3 linked regions of the Homo sapiens genome follow. The protein of the gene in region 1 purifies or fractionates together with the protein of each later gene. This does not show direct contact. Each region holds a gene or a part of one and is shown on either strand. Other genes may lie near its edges.

Region 1 (5,683 bases):
GAGGCTAGAGAGAAAATCCGAAGATCTGTTTTCAGCATATTGTTTGAGTTATGCATTGGACATCAACTGGGGATGTCAAGTGGAACGTTGGATATAATTATCAAGCCTCTGGAAAACAACTTAGAGATAGAGAAGCCAATTCATACATTATTATCAAAAGAAGAAGAATAAATGGACTAAGCATTCTGCTTAAAATTTCCAAACAAGGCCAGGTGCGGTGGCTCACGCCTGTAATCCCAGCACTTTGGGAGGCCGAGGCAGGTGGATTACCTGAGGTCAGGAGTTCGAGACCAGCTAAGCCAACATGATGAAATCCCGTCTCTACTAAAAATATAAAAAATTAGCCAGGCATGATGACGGACACCTGTAATCCCAGCTTCTCGGGAGGCTGAGGCAAGAGAATCGCTTGAACCCAGGAGGTGGAGGTTGCAGTGAGCCAACATCGCATCATTGCACTCTAGCCTGGGCGACAAGGAGAAACTCTGTCTCAAATAAACAAACAAACAAATAAATAAATAAATAAATAATCCAAACAATAATTATAATTTTTAAAAAAGGAAAATTGGAGGAAATGAACAACAAATGGAAATCAACAAGAAAGCCACAGTCTATCAACCATAGGATTGTATAGCAAGCTTGAGACTAGTTCTTAGAGAAATTATTAATAACTTGGTTCTTTGAAAACTTAAGGAAATCAATATTTCTATGGTAAAAAAACAAATAGCAGAAATAGACAAACTTTAGAACAAAAAAGGGAAGTTATAGCAAAACAGATGGCTTTTAATAATCAAAGGTATTTTATGTAACATTGCACAGACTTAAATTTGAAAATTCCCGTGAAATGTATTCCAGTTCAAAAAAGAAGGGCTAATGATCTACAAAATGAAAACATTTCAAAAACCACAAAAGATGTTTTGTAAAAGTTATCAAAGAATGCTCCTAAGTGGCAACTGGTCCCAATAGATTAATGGGAGGATTTTGCAAACTTTAAGCCCCAAAGCGGGGTTTTAGCCCACGAGGGTTCTTGGCTTTGCCCAGAAAAGAATTCAAAGGTGAGCAGGGGCAAGGCAGGGGAAAACAGCTTGCTTTCTTTCCTTCCTTCTTTCTGTCTTTGTGTCTTTCCTTCTTTCTTACTATTTTTTTTTTTTAGACGGAGTCTTGCTCTGTCACCCAGGCTGGAGTGCAGTGGTGTGATCTCGGCTCACTGCAAGCTCCGCCTCCTGGGTTCACGCCATTCTCCTGCCTCAACCTCCCGAGTAGCTGAGTCTACAGGCTCCCGCCAACACGCCTGGCTAATTTTTTGTATTTTTAGTAGAGACAGGGTTTCACTATGTTAGCCAGGATGGTCTTGATCTCCTGACCTCAGGTGATCCACCTGCATTGGCCTCCCAAAGTACTGGGATTACAGACATGAGCCACCACGCCCAGCCTATACCTATTTTTAGCCTATACCTATTTATATAGGTATAAAAATAGCCTATACCTATTTTTAATTACATGTAGATTAAGGGGCAGTTTATGCAGAAATATCTAGGGAAGGGGCAGTAACTTCTGGGTCATGGGGTCATTGCCATGGGAAGGGGCAGTAACTCCTGGGTGTGTTGCCATGGCAATGGCAAACTGACATGGCACACTGGTAGGCGTGTCATAGAAAGTTGCTTCGGGCCAGGCGTGGTGGCCCACACCTGTAATCCCAGCACTTTGGGAGGCCGAGGTGGGCAGATCACCTGAGTCAGGAGTTCAAGACCAGCCTGGCTAATATGGCGAAACCCCATCTCTACTAAAAAATACAAAAATATTAGCTGGGCATGGTGGCATGCGCCTGTAGTCCCAGCTACTCGGGAGGCTGCGGCAGGAGAATCACTTGAATCCGGAAGGTGGAGGTTGCAGTGAGCCGAGATCGTGTCACTGCACTCCAGCCTGGGTAACAGAGCAAGACTCCTTCTCCAAAAAATAAAAATAAATAAAAATAATAAGTTGCTTCAGCCTCCTCCCTGTTTTAGCTGGTCCTCAATTTGGTCCAATATTCGAGCCGAGCCCCATCTCCAGAGTTGAGTCCTGCCTCCTACCTCAAAGGAGCTGTATAAATTGTTCCACAACAAATTTTATTTTACAAGACAGCCTTGGTCTTAATTCACGCATGATAATTCAGAGTAAAATACTAAGTAATAAAATATCAGGCCGGGCGTGGTGGCTCATGTCTGTAATCCCAGCACTTTGGGAGGCCGAGGCGGGTGGATCACCTGAGGTCGGGAGTTCGAGACCAGCCTGGCCAACATGGAGAAACCCCGTCTCTACTAAAAATAAAAAAAAAAAAACATTAGCTGGGTTTGGTGGCACACGCCTGTAGTCCCAGCTACTGGGGAGGCTGAGGCAGGAGAATCGCTTGAACCTGGGAGGCGGAGGCTGTGGTGAGCTGAGATCGTGCCATTGCACTCCAGCCTGGGCAACAAGAGTGAAACTCCGTCTCAAAAAAAAAAAAAAAAAAAAAAAGTGATACCAGTGCTTTCTGACTGAGCTCCTGTCTACCCTGAATCCAATAGATCCTAAGAGTTAGGCAGGTATATCGTCACCCCTGTCCAGCCTGAAGAAGTCACAGAAGTTGTATCTTCCTCCCTCTACAACCCTTAGGATTAAAGGTTCTCTTATAAAAGGGAGCGGGGAAATGTCAGAGGCATGTGAACCAGAGTGACTCCATCTTGAACAGGAGCTGGGTGAAATAAGGCTGAGACCTATGGGCTGCATTCCCAGGAGGTTAGGTATTCTAAGTCAAGGATAAGGCCGGGAACGGTGGCTCATGCCTGTATTCCCAGCACTTTGGGAGGCCAAGGTGGGTGGATCACCTGAGGTCAGGAGTTCGAGACCAGCCTGGCCAACATGGTGAAACCCTGTCTCTACTAAAAATACAAAAATTAGCCAAGTGTGGTGGCAGCGCCTGTAATCCCAGCTACTCGGGAGGCTGAGGCATAAGAATCGCTTGAACCCGGGAGGTGGAGGTTGCGGTCAGCCGAGATCGTGCCACTACAATCCAGCCTGGGTGACAGAGCAAGACTTCATCTCAAAAAAATAAAATTAAATTAAATTAAAAAAAATTAGTCCAGTTGTTACCCTTGGGGAATTTACAGTTTAGCTGGGACCTTGTGTTCCAGAGACTCAGAGAAAGGAAGAGCCCATTCTTTCTGGAAGGAGCATAAATCAGGGAGGGCTTCCTGGAGGAAGTGACATTTGAGGGACGCCTTGAAGGAAATTATTGATGATGAAGAGCAAGAGCATTGGAGTCAAAACTGGGATCAAATTCCAGCTGTCTGGTGTTCTTGCTGTGTGATCTTGGGTAAATGACCTCCCCTCCCAGGACCTCAGCTTATAAAATGAAGCATGCCACCCTATCTCCCTGGGCTGTTGTGAGAATGACCTTAAAGGAGAAACTATATGTGAAGTGCTGTTCTGGAGTAATGACCGCAGACACAGGTATCACTACTATGTTATTTATTTATTTATTTATTTAGCGGCAGGGTCCCGCTCCGTCACCTAGGCTAGAGTGCAGTGATGAGATCACGGCTCACTGCAGCCTCAACCTCCCAGGCTGAAGCAATCCTCCCACTTCAGTCTCCCTAGTAGCTGGCACTACAGGCATGTGCCACCAAACCAGGCTAATTTTCTTTTTTTTATTTTTGTAGAGATGGGGTCTTGCTCTGTTGCCCAGGCAGGTCTCCAGCTTCTGGGCTCAAGGGATCCTCCCGACTGGGCCTCCGAAAGTGCTGGGATCACAGGCGTGAGCCACCATGCCTGGCCTACCATGTAATTTAAAAGATCTGAGCAGGTAGAGTTCAAAAGTAAATTCTAGAACAGCATTTTGTAACAGAAATCTCTGTTATGATGGCAATGTTCTATAGCTGTGCTGTCGAATATGGCAGTCACCAGCCATATGTGGCTACTGAGCACTTGAACTATGGCCAGTGTGCCCGAGGAACTAAATTTGAAATGAAAATTTATTCTTTCTTTCTTTTTTTTTTTGAGATGGAGTCTCATTCTGACATCCAGGCTGGAGTGCAGCGGTGTGATCTAAGCTCACTGCAAACTCCACTTCCCGGGCTCAAGCAATCTACCTGCTTTAAGGAGGATTGAAGCAGAAGGATTCAAGCAACTCCCTCCTCAGTAGCTGGAACTACAGGCACGCCCCACCACGTCTGGCTAATTTTTGTATTTTTTGTAGAGATGGGGTCTTGCTATGTCGCCCAGGCTGGTCTCAAACTCCTGGGCTCATGCAATCCTCCCACCTCGGCCTCCCAAAGTGCTGAGATTATAGGCAGGAGCCACCAGGCCTGGCCAATTGATTCGAATTTGAATAGCCACAGATGGCTCTTGATTGTTGAACTGCACAACATAGATCAGAAGGACATTCCAGCCAGTGGCACAGCTTCAGGAAAGATGCAGAAGCGTGAATATAGCCCGAAGGGTGTGTATTAGCTTCCCACGGCTGCTATAACAAATCACCCCAAACATAGTGACTTAAAACAATACAAATGTATTTTCTTAAAGGTCTGCGGATCAGAGGTCTAAAAGTGTCAGGAGGTCTGTGTTCCTTCTGGGAGCTTCAGAGAGAATCTGTTTCCTTGTCTGTTTCAGCTTCTGGAAGCTGCCTGCATTTCTTGGCACCTCCTCACGTCACTATGACATCTGCTTCCGTTGTCACCTCCTGTGACTGACCCTGACCCTCCTGCCTCCCTCTTAAAAGGACCCTCGTGACTCCATTGAGCCCACCCAGACAATCCAGGATAACCACCCCTTCTCAAGATCCTTTACTTAATCTCACCTGCAAAGTCCCTTTTGCCATGGAAGGTCACCTCTTCACAGGTTCAGGGGATTAAGATGTGGACATCACCGGGGGTCATGATTCTGATTGCTACAGGGTCTGAGAAGCTAGAGAGTAAGTGTGTCCAGTGGTGGAGAGAAGCCTTGAATGCCGAGCTAAGGAGCCTGGACTTGGCCTTTCCTTCAAAATAGATGCATGACCTGTCAGCCTCTCACCACCTCAGCTCTGTTACCCTGATCCAAATCGCTATCACCTCCTGCTTGGACCATTACAGTAGCCTCCTCTCTGGGATCTTCACTGCCCCTACACCATACTCTCACCTCCACCAGCAACCAGAGGGATCCTATTAAAATCTTTTGGCCGGGTGCGGTGGCTCACGCCTGTAATCCCAGCACTTTGGGAGGCTGAGGCGGGTGGATCACCAGGTCAGGAGATCAAGACCATCCTGGCTAACAAGGTGAAACCCCTTCTCTACTAAAAATACAAAAATTAGCTGGGCATGGTGGCGGGCGCCTGTAGTCCCAGCTACTCAGGAGGCTGAGGCAGGAGAATGGCGTGAACTCAGGAGGCGGAGCTTGCAGTGAGCCGAGATTGTGCCACTGCACTCCAGCCTGGGCGACAGAGCGAGACTCCATCTCAAAAAAATAAATAAATAAATAGAATCTTTTATTTATTTATTTTTTGAGACGGAGTCTCGCTCTGTCGCCCAGGCTGGAGTGCAGGGGCTCAATCTTGGCTCACTGTCACCTCTGCCTCCCGGGTTCAAAACGATTCTTCTGCCTCAGCCTCCCAAGTAGCTGGGACTACAGGCATGCGCCACCATGCCCGGCTAATTTTTGTATTTTTAGTAGAGACAGGGTTTCACCATAT
Region 2 (7,361 bases), on another chromosome or scaffold:
AGCAGAGAGAAGCCAGATTAGAGATGGGCCCAGTTGAGGATTCATCCCAACCTTGGGCAGATCGCTTTTCCTAAGCCTGTTTCTTTTCTTTTGAGACGGAGTTTCACTCTTATCGCCCAGGCTGGGGTGCAATGGTGCAATCTTGGCTCACCACAACCTCCACCTTCCAGGTTCAAGTGATTCTCCTATCTCAGCCTCCTGAGTAGCTGGGATTACAGGCATGCGCCATCACACCCAGCTAATTTTGTATTTTTAGTAGAGATGGGGTTTTTCCATGTTGGTCAGGCTGGTCTTGAAATCCCAATCTCAGGTGATCCGTCCACCTCAGCCTCCCAAAGTGTTGGGATTACAGGCGTGAGCCACTGCGCCTGGCTGCCTCAGTTTCTTTATCCATGAAATGGGGTTCGTGTTCATCTCACTGGATGAAGATGAATGATGGCGGATGGACAGCACTTACGACCACGTCATAATGAGCACCCAATATATGCAGGCGACGGCTAGGATGGGTGGCATCCCATAATGAGTAGCCAGCGTTCCAAAGGTGGGGCACGAGAGAAAGGTATAGCAAGACTCGGAATTCCAACAGTTAAAGGTAAATCCTGGACACTCTTGTTGCCTCATGTATTGAGTGGCTTTTTTGTCCCCAGACTTGCTAAGCTAAAAATGAAAGGGAAACCTTAGGTGCTCATTAACTGCCTACTTGCTTTTTCCCAGTTTCGGTTGAATAATCACTTGACTATAATGTTTAGTAAGTCAAAAACACACATGCTGAATATTCATGGAAATTTTTTATGTTTCTAGGAAAAATACAAGAGTGGGGAGGTTAGAAGCTAAGTTGTTTTTTGTTTTCTTTTGTTTTTTTTTTTTTTTCTTTCCCACACATTCTCAATTTCTTCTCAGATTCAGGAGAAGAGGAAAAGGCTATGACTCACTGGAGGTTAAGAAACCCCTTCAGCCCCCTGTTTCTCTCCTTGTTAGACCATAAACTGGCAGCTGTTACTCTTTAGGAAAAGGAAAGAAAATCCAGATGAAAGATGTTTTGTTTGCAAGCCATCTCCCAAACAGAACCTCAGAGTTCCTGAAATTCAGTGTGAAACAATCATCTATGTGACACCAAGCACTTTTACTAAAAGGATTTCCCCCATCACTGAGCTAAACCCCTACTGGAACTTTTCAACTGAGTCTGTCAGGAGGAAAGGTTTTTTTCTTAAATGTTCTAAGAGTGAGACGGTGATAATTTAACAAGCACCTGTAAAGTGTTAGTTCCCATCAGCCCTGCTGATCACTTAAGTCAAGCAAAATGCAGACACAGAAAACAGGGTGGATGATGGAGAAACCTCTCCACTGGACACCCCAGCCCTGTACTCTTCTCAGGAAAGCCTCCTTCTGTACTAAGCCAGCCATGAGCCCTCCCTAAGGCTGAGCTGTAAGCAAAAGAATGTAAAAGATTCTGAACCCCAGCTTCAGACCCTCCTCCCGAGATCATAAATAGCACTGAGAGCTCAAGTTAGGACTTTTCATACCTGTCAGTCACTTTTAGCCAAAATATGCCAACAGGCCCCTGCACCCGGAGGTGGATTTACAAGCTCAAAGCTGAACTATGACAATAAAAGAAACACATTTGCAGAGTGACTGGCAGTTTATTAAGCACTGCTTCAAACATTTGATCCTCACAGCTACCTAGTGACAACTCCCCATCTACCCAGTGGGGAGAGGAGAGACTCTCTCCCCCGACAGCTCCTTGCCCAGTGACCACAGTAGCTTCCAGCTTCCTTCGCACATCTGTTCATTGTCATCTGTGTTATTTCTGTCCTCATCAGGGATGGGGACATCTCATTGCAGCTCTGCACTTTAATAATAAGCAACCCCAGATCTTCCAGCTCAGTTGGCTCTGGGGAATTGAGTCCAAATCCATGGCCAGTTGGAGAGCAAGTCCAATCCAAGACAACTTCTCACACCATGAACACCTGGGAGAGCCGGTGTCAGGCCTGACCTGGTCAGCCTAGTTCAGATGTCCATTCCCAGAGGCTGCCTAATGCCAAAGAGTGTCTGCTCACCCTCAGGATGAGGCCAAGTCACCCTGGAAGCCCCCCAGTGAGCAGCACTGGGCAAGGTGTGTGATGCCTGTCACCCTCTCCACTCAGGAGCCAGAGAGATGCCGTGGGGCCAGCCCTTCCCGGTGCAGACCTGGGGACCTTCCCTCTCTTGGCCAGCTTCTCAGCACCCACCTGCCCTGGAGAGTGGGAAAGAGGGGAGGGCTGAAGATGGGTTAGCACAGATGGTGACCACCAGGAGGTCAGGGGAGGAGGGGGATGGGACGATGGAAAGGTGAGTGTTGCCCGGAAAAGTGGACGATCAGCTCAAGATTGTGGAAGGAGGTTTATGGCGCCTCATAATTCGTGGGACAGGGGAGGAGGGTCACCACGTGAAATATGGGAAGTGGGTGATGCTGAGGGCTGGGGGAGGGGACAGGAGGTGAGGAAAGAGGGGTCACAGGGGAGAAGGGAGATGGAGGAAGGGACCACGATGGGGCAGGGAAGAGGAGTAGGAGGAGGTCTAGGGAGGGTGATGCCCGGCTCCGAGGCGGCGGCGCTTAGCACGTACGAGCACTGGCCTCGGCCGGGCCGGGATGCGGGCGCCCGGGTCCCGGAGCATCCTCGGCGGGGGCGGCGGCGGCGGCGGCGCCGGTAAGGGAGGGCCGTGGGCCTGCAGCTGCCGGGCTCCCGCCTCCAACCCCTGTCCTGGGGTCGGCCCAGCCGCGCCGCCCTCCCGCCCCGGCAGCCCCCGGAGACGAAGCTTACCTGCGCCCGGGCGCGCGGACGGCTGCCGGGACCCAGGAGACGCCGCCGCCCGAGGGCGCGGACCCGCGGACGGCCCCTGCCCGGCGCCGCGGAGCCGCCGCCTGGCTGCTGCCCAGCCCACGCCGCGGGAGCCCGAGCCGGAGCCCGAGCCCGAGCCTAAGCCGCGCCGGTGCCCCTGCCGGTGCCGACGCCGCGCTGCGCTCCGCGGGGCCGCGAAGACCACAACTCCCACAATGCCGCGCGCGCTGGGCCGCCGGGGGAGGGGGTACGGGGGGGCGGGGCCTGCGGGGCGGGGCCGGGGACCCCCCTGCACCCGGCACCTGCGCTCGCAGTGCGGGAGGCGACCCGAGGCCGCGCCCGCCGCCGCTCCGGAGGGTCCTGGCAGTGCGCCCCGAGACGCAGCGCCCGCCCAGCCCGAGGTTGCGCGCAGGCGGCGACGGGCGTGCAGTCATTCATTAAGAAAGGCTCGCGTCGCTTCCTTCGCTCTTTCGTTTTTCGCTCTGTGTCTTTCTCAGTTCTCCCTCCCTCTGTCTCTCTGTTCCTCTCTGAGTCGCCCTCGTCTCCATTTCCTCCTTTTCATTCTCTTTCACTTCCCCCCCACCTCACTTCCTCTCGCCCTAACGCCTTCTTTCCTTTATTGATGGACTCAACACGGACTTCTGAGGCCCTCAGGCACTTGGAATGGAACCGCAAATCAAACCAGATTCTTAGTCTCATGGAAAACTCATTCGCTCAGTACAGTAATGATGGGCCAGCCTGGGTCCCCGTCCCTGCCAGCTGCGCTGAGCGTGCGCGGTGAGCGCTCAGGCCCGCCCTGCCCTCAGTGAGCCACCGTCTAGCGGGAGGGGACCCTCACCCCCGGGTAGGGTTTAGGAGGGGAAGTACAGGCAGGACGGTTGTCTGACCAGGGGACTGATGAGCTGCGAATGGAGGCCCCAAGGAGGCTGCTTGGAGGAGGTGACGTTTGAGCTAAGACCTGGGGGAGACTAACAGTGGCTACGGGATGTGTTAGGGGCGCCAGGGAAACTGCATGGGTGGGTTCTGGGAGCATAGAGTAGGATGGCCCGCCCACAATCCATCTGTCTCTGTCCCAGACCCACCTCTCTTGTGTCCCAGAATTTATCTCTAACATGGCCCAGAAGCCACCTCATGTCTGTCCCAGAATCCATTTCTCATCCCTATTCCAGAAGCCACCTTCACCCTGTTCCAGAACGTACCTCCTTCCTGTTCCAGAACCCACCTCCCTCCCTGTCCCAGGACCCACCTCCACCCTGTGCCAGAACTCACCTCCTTCCTGTTACAGAACCCACCTCCTCCCTCTTCCAGAACCCACCTCCTCCCTCTTCCAGAGCCCACCTCCTCCCTCTTCCAGAACCTACCTTCTTTCTGTCCCAGGACCCACTTCCACCCTGTCCCAGGACCCACCTCCTCCCTGTCCCAGGACCCACCTCCACCCTGTCCCAGAGCCCACCTCCTCCCTATTCCAGAAGCCACCTTCACCCTGTTCCAGAACATACCTCCTTCCTGTTCCAGAACCCACCTACTCCCTGTCCCAGGACCCACCTTCACCCTGTGCCAGAACCTACCTCCTTCCTGCTACAGAACCCACCTCCTCTCTCTTCTAGAACCCACCTCCTCCCTCTTCCAGAACCCACCTCCTCCCTCTTCCAGAACGCACCTCCTCCCTCTTCCAGAACGCACTTCCTCCCTGTCCCAGGACCCACCTCCTCCCTGTCCCAGGACCCACCTCCACCCTGTGCCAGAACCCACCTCCTCCCTGTTCCAGGACCCACCCCCTCTCTGTTCCAGAACTCACCTCCACCCTGTTCCAGAACTCACCTCCTCCCTGTCCCAGGACCCACCTCCTCCCTGTCCCAGGACCCACCTCCACCCTGTGCCAGAACCCACCTCCTCCCTGTTCCAGGACCCACCCCCTCTCTGTTCCAGAACTCACCTCCACCCTGTTCCAGAACTCACCTCCTCCCTGTCCCAGGACCCACCTCCTCCCTGTCCCAGGACCCACCTCCACCCTGTGCCAGAACCCACCTCCTCCCTGTTCCAGGACCCACCCCCTCTCTGTTCCAGAACTCACTTCCACCCTGTTCCAGAACTCACCTCCTCCCTGTTCCAAGACCCACCTCCACCCTGTCCCAGTACCCACCTCCTCCCTGTTCCAGAAGCCACCTTCACCCTGTTCCAGAATGTACCTCCTCCCTGTCCCAGAGCCCACCTCCACCATGTCCCAGAACCCACCTCTCATCTCTGTCCCAAAATCCACCTGGTCCCTGACCTAAGAATCTGCCTCTACTGTGATAGCCTAAAATCCACCTCCTCCCTGTTCCAGAACCCAGTTTGTCATGTCCCAGAACCCACTTCTTCCATGTCCCAGAGTACACCTCTCCCATGTCCCAGAATACACCTCTTCCATGTCTTAGACTCTTCTTCATCTCTGTCATTTCTCTCCTTTTCTCAACTCCAAAAGAGGAAGAATGTTTTTTCTCTTTTATTCTACTAAAATAAACCAAAACACTTGCATTGGGAAACCATAATATGCACAGATTTGCTCAAAGTGTGGATAATCAACACAGGCATCAGATTTAGAAACATTAAATGGGATGTCTGTCTTCACTGTCAGCCTAAGAGTGGTTGAGCCTGGGTGGGGTGGAGAAAATGGAGTGGGGGGTATTTGACTCATCTCACATTCAGAAAGTTGCTCAAACTTAGAATTCTCCAAAGGCAGTCATACATTCTATCACAGCATTATCCTGGCAGGTTTGAAAAAAAAAAGATATTTTTATATTGTAAATATGTGTTCCATTCCTGCACCATCTTATCTGTACTGTATTATGAATTAATATTGTCTATCAATCCTATAAGTGTCCTTGACCAGTGCAATTATATGATATCTGTAGACCACTGCTCTGCATTTGTTAGTATTTATTTGTTCAATGGCAATATTACTATACACGCAATTTTGTTAGCCCTGCTTACCATTTCTTCATCTTTTTAATTAGCTGGGAGTCTCAATAAATGGAAATGACCTGGGCCTCTGTCAACCCCTTGGAGACCCTACTAGGTGAATTCTGCAGAAAAGGATATCCATGCCTTTCAGAGGGGGATTTTGGGTGAGAGCTCCAGATAAATTGTTACTGTGCTCATGGAGAGGCGGAGAGGAGGACCAAGGGCATCTGAATTGCCTGCCTTCAGCTTGGCTGCCACCTGCATCCTCCTGCTCTCGCTGCCTTCTTTAGCGCAGTCATCCTACCCACTCCGAGACTACACAACCTATCATTACACCGTCTCATACACTCACGGGGTCCACTCAACTCCCTCCTCCTACAGATGGAAGCCCAGAGAGAAAACATGCCTTGCTCAATCAAGGTTGCAGCAAGTCAGTGGAAAATGTGCTTGCGGCCAGCCGTGGTGGCTCACATCTGTAATCCCAGCACTTTGGGAGGCCGAGGCCAGTGGATCACCTGAAGTCAGAAGTCCTAGACCATCCTGATCAACATGTTGAAACCCTGTCTCTACTAAAAGTACAAAAAGTTTTGTATTAATTTTTGTATTAATTAACTACAGGTGTGGTGGTGCACGCCTGTAGTCCCAGCTACTCTGGAGGCTGAGGCAGGAGAATTGCTTGAACCCAGGAGGCAGAGGTTGCAGTGAGCTGAGATTGCACTACTGCATTCCAGCCTGGGTAACAGAGCAAAACTCTCTGAAAGAAGAAAGAAAGAAAGAGAGAGGGAGGGAGGGAGAGAGGGAAGGAGGAAAGGAAGGAAGGAAAGAAAGAAGGGAGGGAGGGAGGGAGATGTGCTTGCTTGGTGCATTAAAGAAACTGGTATGATCACTTTGGAGAGCAGTTTGGTAGTATTCCTTAAAACAACAACAAATATGTATACACTGAAACCAACAATTTCGCTATGCTATATCTAACCTAGAGGGATTCTGGGATAGATGGAAGACTAGTTGTTTTTTCATATTACGTAATACTGTGAAGCTACTAAAAGCAGGAGCTAGATGTATATATAGCAACGTGGATAAAGCTCCTAGAAAAATAATAGGGTGAAAATTAAAAAAAAAGCAGAATTATGATTGTAGTATGATTTTATCTACATAACACGCACCTGTACACATGTGGGTATACACATGTATTTATATAAAAGCAGGGAAAGCACTAGAAGAACACACTAGTATGTTCTCCTATATAAAATGCAAAATAATTACGTTTGTAAATGCAGATAATATCCCTCAGAGGAAGCACACCAAATTCCTAAGAGTTGTAACTTCAGGGGGGACCAAGAAGGAACAAGGAATTGGGAGCAGTAGGCAAGGGAAACTCCAGCATTTTTTGTGATGTTTTAATTTAATATTTTCAAAGGTGTTTAAATACTCCGGAACAACATGCAGAAAGTTACTGGGACCGCGTCACTCTCCTATCCCTCAACCAGTTGGTTTTCTTTAGTGAAGACAGCCATTATAACAAATTTCTTATTCATCTTTTCAGGAATACGCTTTGCATTTGCAAATATTTGGAAATAGCTTAACTTTTAACTTTTAAAA
Region 3 (7,028 bases), 6.6 Mb from region 1:
GTGAATTATAACAGTATGTGAATTATTTCTCAATAAAACTGTTAGAATGAGCCTCCAAAGAGCTTATTTATGTGGATTATAGTTATCAATGTCTACCATATTAGAAATTAAAACTGAGAAATTTTTAGGCCAGGTGCGGTGGCTTACGCCTGTAATCCCAACACTTTGGGAAGCTGGGGCGGGAGGATCCCTTGAGGTCAGGAATTTGAGACCAGTCTGAGTGACATAGCGAGGCCCCATTTTTACAGAAAGTAAAAATATTAGCCAAGCATGGTGGTGCATACCTGTAGTCCCAGCTACTCAGGAGGTTAAGGCAGGAGGATCACTTGGGCCCAGGAGGTTGCAGTGAGCCATGATTGTGCCGCTGCACTCCAGCCTGGGTGATAGAGTGAGACACTGTCTCAAAAACACAACAAAAATACAGAGATATTTTTAAAACACAAGAGTACACACGTACACATTCCATCAGCTGTCAGTCTGATGGTGTCCTCACATGTCCTGGAGCCTCTGGAGAACTCCAGTGAATGTTCTTAGACGCATGAGAGCAGAAAGGGGAAAATAACATCTTAATGTTACGATAAAAATAGTTTGATCTCTCAGACCCCTCTGAATGGTCTCAGGGACCCTCAGGGGTCCCTGGCCCACATTTCGAGAATCGTTGCCCTTCTCATGTCCCCACCTGGTCACTCCCCTCACCAAGGGTGACCTCTGTCTTGGCTCCTGGACCCTGGATTTGTTTGGCCTTGTTTTGCTCTTTATATCAGTGTAACTGGGTGATGATTTCATGCACCCGGCTGCTTTCACTCAGCATTACATTTTTGAGACCCACCTGGGCTGTTGTGTGTAGTGATAGCTCATCTATTCAATACTGTAGTAGTTACTCTTTGACTCTCCTGCAATTTGTTTTAACTTATGTTTATTTTTCTTTCTTTCTTTTCTTTTTTTTTTTTTTTTCCCGAGACAGGGTATTGCTTGGTTGCCCAGGCTGGAGTGCAATGGTGCGATCACAGTTCATTGCAGCCTCAACCTCCAGGGCTCAAGCAATCCTCCTGCCTCAGCCTCCTGAGTAGCTGGGACTACAGGCACATGCCACCATACACCCAGCTAATTAGAGACAGGGTCTTGCTTTGTTATCCAGGCTGGTCTGGAACTCCTTGACTCAAGCCATCCTCCTGCATTGACCTCCCAGTGTTGGGATTATAGGCGCGAGCCAACAAGCCTGGCCTCCGTATTTCGTTTTAGCCATTCCTGTTGGTGTGCAGATGATATATATTTTTTTTAATAGAGAAAGGATGTCACTGTTGCCCAGACTGGTCTCAGACTCCTGTGTTCATCCCGCCTGGGTCTCCCAAAGTGCTGGGATTACAGGCGTGGGCCGCCGGGCCTGGCCGCAGTGATGATATTTGTGGTTATAATTCTAATGGTTGTTCTCTCCCCAGAGGGTGGTTCTGGGCTGGACTCCAGCCCCTTCCTGTCGGAGGCCAATGCCGAGCGGATTGTGCAGACCTTATGTACAGTTCGAGGGGCCGCCCTCAAGGTTGGCCAGATGCTCAGCATCCAGGGTACAGCATGACCCTCGACTCCTGACCCCTGACCTCCCTTCTACCCCAGCCCTACCCACCAACAGGCCCCAACTTCAGATACTCACACGGGGTCCCTCCTCACCTCTTCGCTTACTTCCCCCCTGGTTCCACTGTCTCCCAAGACAACAGCTTCATCAGCCCTCAGCTGCAGCACATCTTTGAGCGGGTCCGCCAGAGCGCCGACTTCATGCCCCGCTGGCAGATGCTGGTGAGTGCCCAGTGGGGGAGGGCGGTGAGGGAGGCAGGCTCCATCTCCTCTGACCTGCCTGACCTTCCTGGCTTCACTGCCCCACTCCCTGCCTCTGAGCCTCACTTTCCCCATCTGTAAAATGGGAATCACCAGAGTACACACCTCCTAGCATTGCTGTGGTGATTAAAACAGGGAACAGCAGCCTGACCTCTCTGTGCTTCAGTTCCCTTCCCTGGGAAATGGCGATAGTGACAGCCACACCCACATCATAGGGTCACATAAATCAGTTTACACTGAGCACTGAGAACGGCCCCTGATTCACTGTGAGCAACATGCAGGTGTTAGCTGTGATTATTACTGTTTTTTTAATTAAAGGAGATCGTGTCTGTAATAGGTTGGCACGGCGCCTGGCACCAAGTAAGTGCCCAGGACATGAGCTGTTCTAATAACTGGGTAAGGCATGGAATCCAGGATTCCGCCACCCACCTGCTCTCCCATCCCTGTTCTGCTTATTCGCCATGCGGCCCCAGGCAGGTACTGCCTCTCTCTGGGCCACTCTGAATAGGACCTGGCCCACAGGAAGCCCATTGTAAATTTTAGCTCTTCTTGATCACAGTAACTGTGAGTTAATAATAACATATAAGAGCATAATAAAGGATGGTTGGCCACGTGTAATGGCTCATGCCTGTAATCCCAGCACTTTGGGAGGCTGCGGTGGGAGGATCATTTGAGCTCAGGACTTCCAGACCACCCTGGGCAACATAGTGAGACCTTGTCTCTACTAAACATAATAACAGTAATAATTAGCTGGGCACAGTGGCACATATCTGTAGTCCCAGCTATTCAGGAGGCAGGAGGATGGCTTGAGCTCGGGAGGTTGATGCTGCAGTGAGCCGTGAGAGTGCCACTACACTCCAGCCTGGGCTACAGAACAAGACCCTGTCTCAAAAAAAAAAAAAAAAAAAGGATTGTTATGAGTCTTAACTATAAATAATAGCAATCCCCACAACAGCCCAGGGAGTCCAGGTTCAGGGGACACAGGCTAGGCTGAGCCTCACAGTCTGCCAGTGCCTGGCTAGTCACTTGCACAAGGGAGCTCTCTCTGAGCCTCAGTTTCCTCATCTGCAAAGGGGGTGGCAGCCAAGAGCTTAGCCCAGGGCCCTGCATGTGGTGAGTGCTGGGGTTATCAACACGTAAAGCACTCAGCCTGGGGAATGAACTCTGCCACAATGATGATGGCTGTGACCACTCCCCGCAGAGAGTTCTTGAAGAGGAGCTCGGCAGGGACTGGCAGGCCAAGGTGGCCTCCTTGGAGGAGGTGCCCTTTGCCGCTGCCTCAATTGGGCAGGTGCACCAGGGCCTGCTGAGGGACGGGACGGAGGTGGCCGTGAAGATCCAGGTGAGAGGGGAGGCTGGGCAGGGTAGGGGCGGGCACCCTGCTAGCCCAGAGAAGTGACTCCCACCTTCTCTCCCTCCCTTCTCCCTTTACAGTACCCCGGCATAGCCCAGAGCATTCAGAGCGATGTCCAGAACCTGCTGGCGGTACTCAAGATGAGCGCGGCCCTGCCCGCGGGTGAGGCGCCCACCCACTCCTCTGCTGACCTCCCAAAGGGGCTATGCCCAGAGAGAGAAAGCAGGAGGGGGAGCCCAGAGGAGAGCACGGGCAGGGTGTGCTGGCGTTGTGAGCGGGAGTGTCAGAGACAGAAAGGACACCAAGGCGGGGAGAGCCCAGGGAGCATGAGCAGGTGTGGGAAAAGCCTTATGGATTTTAACAGAGCCTTAGAGAGACGGGAGCCCAGGGCCAAGATACAGCAGCAGACTCTCAGAGGGTGTGCATGCAGGGAGCGGGATTGTAGGTGCGGCAGAGCAGAAAAGGACAGTCCTGGGGATGGCACGTGAGGAGGCGCCTAGAGAAAGGAGGGTGGGTTGTGTTTGTGTAAGAGACGGAGAGGGAGAGGGAAAGCCAGGCCCAGAAGTGAGATTCAGATGCAGTGAGCAACGTGAGAGTCAGTATGAAAAGGAGACAGAATAGAGGCAGGCGTGACTCTGAAAGAGCTGCCAGGGACTGGGGTGCAGGCATGTGCAAGAGACAGAGCCCAGAAAAGGCTTCGGAAGACCCCGGGGAACCCTGTGGTGCTATGAAGGACGAGGGAAATGTGTAGACAGATGATACGATGCAGGTCAGAGGCCTGGAGCAGGAGCTGCAAGGGGCAGCGGGGGAGACAGGAGAGGGACAGATGCAGGTCAGAGGCAGGAGCAGGAGCTGCGTGGGAGACAGGAGAGGGACAGATGTGGGTCACAGGCCTAGAGTAGGAGCTGTGAGGGACAGCGCGGGAGACAGGAGAGAGAGGGTTGGCAGGAGAAGGCATCCACCAGTGGGCGCTCGGGGCCCTTCCCTGGCTGACACACCTCCCCCACAGGCCTGTTTGCCGAGCAGAGCCTGCAGGCCTTGCAGCAGGAGCTGGCTTGGGAGTGTGACTACCGTCGTGAGGCGGCTTGTGCCCAGAATTTCAGGTGAGCTGAGTGCCCTGAGCTTCCCTCCTTCCCTCCCTCCCAGGCTGGGTGGGAAGTAGCTGCCCCCTCAGCTTCTGGCAGCTGGAGCTGTGGGGTAGGGCAAACTCTCTCTTTCTTTCAATCATTGTTCATCCATCCTTCCACTCATCCATCACTTCGCTTACCCCCTTTGTCCTCTGTGAGCTTGGGCAGGTCACTTCCCAAGCGGCAGTCTTCTCCTGTGTCAGATGGGCCGCATATCCACTGTGGTCCGACACAGGCACTTAATTAATTACACAATGACACACTCTTACCTCTGCTGGACTGACGGAGAGCAAGGAGCCCACAGCACTGGGAGGTAGAGAGAGTGGGCTCCACAGCATCCCTTCTGCACTGCAGGTTGTGGGAGAAGGTGGTAGAAGCATTTTGAGAACAGGTTGGCATCATCACATAAGCCCTTATATTCAAGAACTCTGCAAGCCAACGATTGCCCTCCCTGCTGAACACTCTAGGGACCCTTTTGCCAGTATCCATCATCAGACTGTTCTAGAACGCTTGTCTGCAACAGCCCCAAACTGGAAACAACCCATATCCATCAAGTTTATCCAGCAGGGTGGACAAATAAGCAACGGTATATTCATCTGTGGAATATTACGTAGCAGTGAAAATGCATGAACTATGGCTACGTGGAACAATGTGGTTATATCTTGGAAGCATCCTGATGTGTAGCAATTAATGGCACCTCAGTGGGGTCCTCCACAGTGTGGCTCACACATTTATTGACAGCCTAAAACGTGCCAAGCTCTGTAGACAGAGAGTGAAAGCTCAGTAGAAGGCAGTGGTTAGAGGCACACACCCTAGACTCAGATGCGGGATGAAATCCTGGGTCAGCCCTTAACAGGTTACGTGGCCTGCATCCATACAATCTGTACAGTGGCCTCCAGAGAGCATCCCCTCACTGTGGAGTGAGGATGAAAGGGGAGTGTGCCGATTAAATGCCCCACATGGCTCCGGTTCATGAGGAGCAGTTCAAACATCAGAGATTTTTATCAACAAGGACAAAAATACAAACCCCAAAGGAGGAGCTCAAGGAAGAGAGTGTGAAGTGGGGTGATGGGCCAGAGACCCCCCCGTCCCCCACAGGATTCCCGGGTGCCCTTAGGATAAAACCCCACACCACCCTCCTGTTCTCCCTCACTCTCCTCCAGCCATCCCACGGATCCTCAACCAGAGACCTTGCTCATATTCTCTGCCTCCCAAATCTTACATAGACATACTTCTTTTATTTTTTTGAGACAGGGTCTCGCTCTGTTTTCCAGGCTGGAATACAGTGGTGAGATCACAGCTCACTCCAGCCTCGACCTCCCAGGCTCAAGTGATTTTCCCACCTCAGCCTCCTGAGTAGCTGGGAACATAGGCGCAGGCCACCACGCCCAGCTAATTTTTGTAGTTTTTCATAAAGACGAGGTTTCACCATGTTGCCCAGGCTGGTCTTGAACTCCTGGGCTCAAGCGATTCTCCCACCTCGGTGTCTCAAACTGCTGGGATTACAGGTGTAAGCCACTGCACCCAGCCAACACACTTACCTCAATCTATAATCCGTCTGTTTGTGAGAGTGTGGTCTCGGGGTTGGGGGCCAGGTCCAGGGACTGGTTCATTCACTGCTCTGTCCCCAGCATCATTTAGCACAAGGATGGACACAGAAGATTCTTTCCCGCTATTTACCTGTGTTCAGAGTAGTGATTGCAAGGACTGACCCATGGGTATCACTATAGACTTCACAGATTTTGATACCAGTGACTACTTTTGGGATGAATGAATTAATAAATTAATGAAAAAGTAATGCAAAGGCTGAAATACACCTGAACTCATCCTTCTGGGGCAACCAGAAGTCATAGAAGGGTTTCGGGTAGGGAAGTGGTGACTGGGTTTCCAGCAGCACCCAGTTGAGAGGCAGGTGCAGAGTAGGCACCTTGGAGATACTTGTTAAATCTCAGTCCAGCCAGGTGTTGGTCATCACCCAGGGCAGACAGCAGCAAGAGATGGGCAGGAGGGAGGGCATGGCGCAGACTGTTCATGGAGGACTTCTGAGAGCACAAGGAGGAGGTCTCAAGCTGGGTCACAAGCCTGAAGCACGAAGTCCCCTTCCTCCCTTTCCTTCTGCCCCAGGCAGCTGCTGGCAAATGACCCCTTCTTCCGGGTCCCAGCCGTGGTTAAGGAGCTGTGCACGACACGGGTGCTGGGCATGGAGCTGGCTGGAGGGGTCCCCCTGGACCAGTGCCAGGGCCTAAGCCAGGACCTGCGGAACCAGGTATGCTGTCTGGTGGCACAGTGGGAAGGGCATGGCCCCAGGGCGGGTGGGCCAGGCTCATGGTCTCTCTCCAGGCCAGCAGTGGCACCACAAGGGAGATCACACTGAGATGCCTGTTAATTCTCCCCACCCCAGATTTGCTTCCAGCTCCTGACGCTGTGTCTGCGGGAGCTGTTTGAGTTCCGATTCATGCAGACTGACCCCAACTGGGCCAACTTCCTGTATGATGCCTCCAGCCACCAGGTTGGTTCCTAGTGATGTGTGTCTGGGTACATTTGCTGTTGTAACAAATATTCCTTGATATTTCGGTAGCTCAACAAAATAGCAGTTGATTACCCCCACAATAGGCAGGGGTGGCCCTTTTCCAAGTGGGATTCAGGGACCCAGCTCCTTCCCTTTTGTGGTTTTGCCATCCCTGGGGCCTTGCAACGCTCTGCTTCCCAAGGAAAGG

What was found. Proteins that work in one complex are often made in the same cells at the same time.
Region 2: the proteins of C5AR2 (region 1) and ASPHD2 purify together in Homo sapiens (affinity purification with mass spectrometry; 2 studies listed by BioGRID and IntAct, with this or other methods). This does not show direct contact.
Region 3: the proteins of C5AR2 (region 1) and COQ8B purify together in Homo sapiens (affinity purification with mass spectrometry; 2 studies listed by BioGRID and IntAct, with this or other methods). This does not show direct contact.

What each region holds. Positions count from the first base shown.
Region 1 is NC_000019.10:47,342,169-47,347,851, reverse strand, and holds the end of C5AR2 (C5a anaphylatoxin chemotactic receptor 2), read right to left. Parts: 3' UTR 523-5,683; downstream 1-522.
Region 2 is NC_000022.11:26,424,927-26,432,287, reverse strand, and holds the start of ASPHD2 (aspartate beta-hydroxylase domain-containing protein 2), read right to left. Parts: upstream 3,029-7,361; 5' UTR 2,802-3,028; intron 1-2,801. UniProt on the Homo sapiens protein: May function as 2-oxoglutarate-dependent dioxygenase.
Region 3 is NC_000019.10:40,699,859-40,706,886, reverse strand, and holds part of COQ8B (atypical kinase COQ8B, mitochondrial), read left to right. Parts: intron 1-1,439; coding exon 1,440-1,562; intron 1,563-1,705; coding exon 1,706-1,791; intron 1,792-3,031; coding exon 3,032-3,172; intron 3,173-3,264; coding exon 3,265-3,346; intron 3,347-4,193; coding exon 4,194-4,287; intron 4,288-6,435; coding exon 6,436-6,577; intron 6,578-6,712; coding exon 6,713-6,820; intron 6,821-7,028.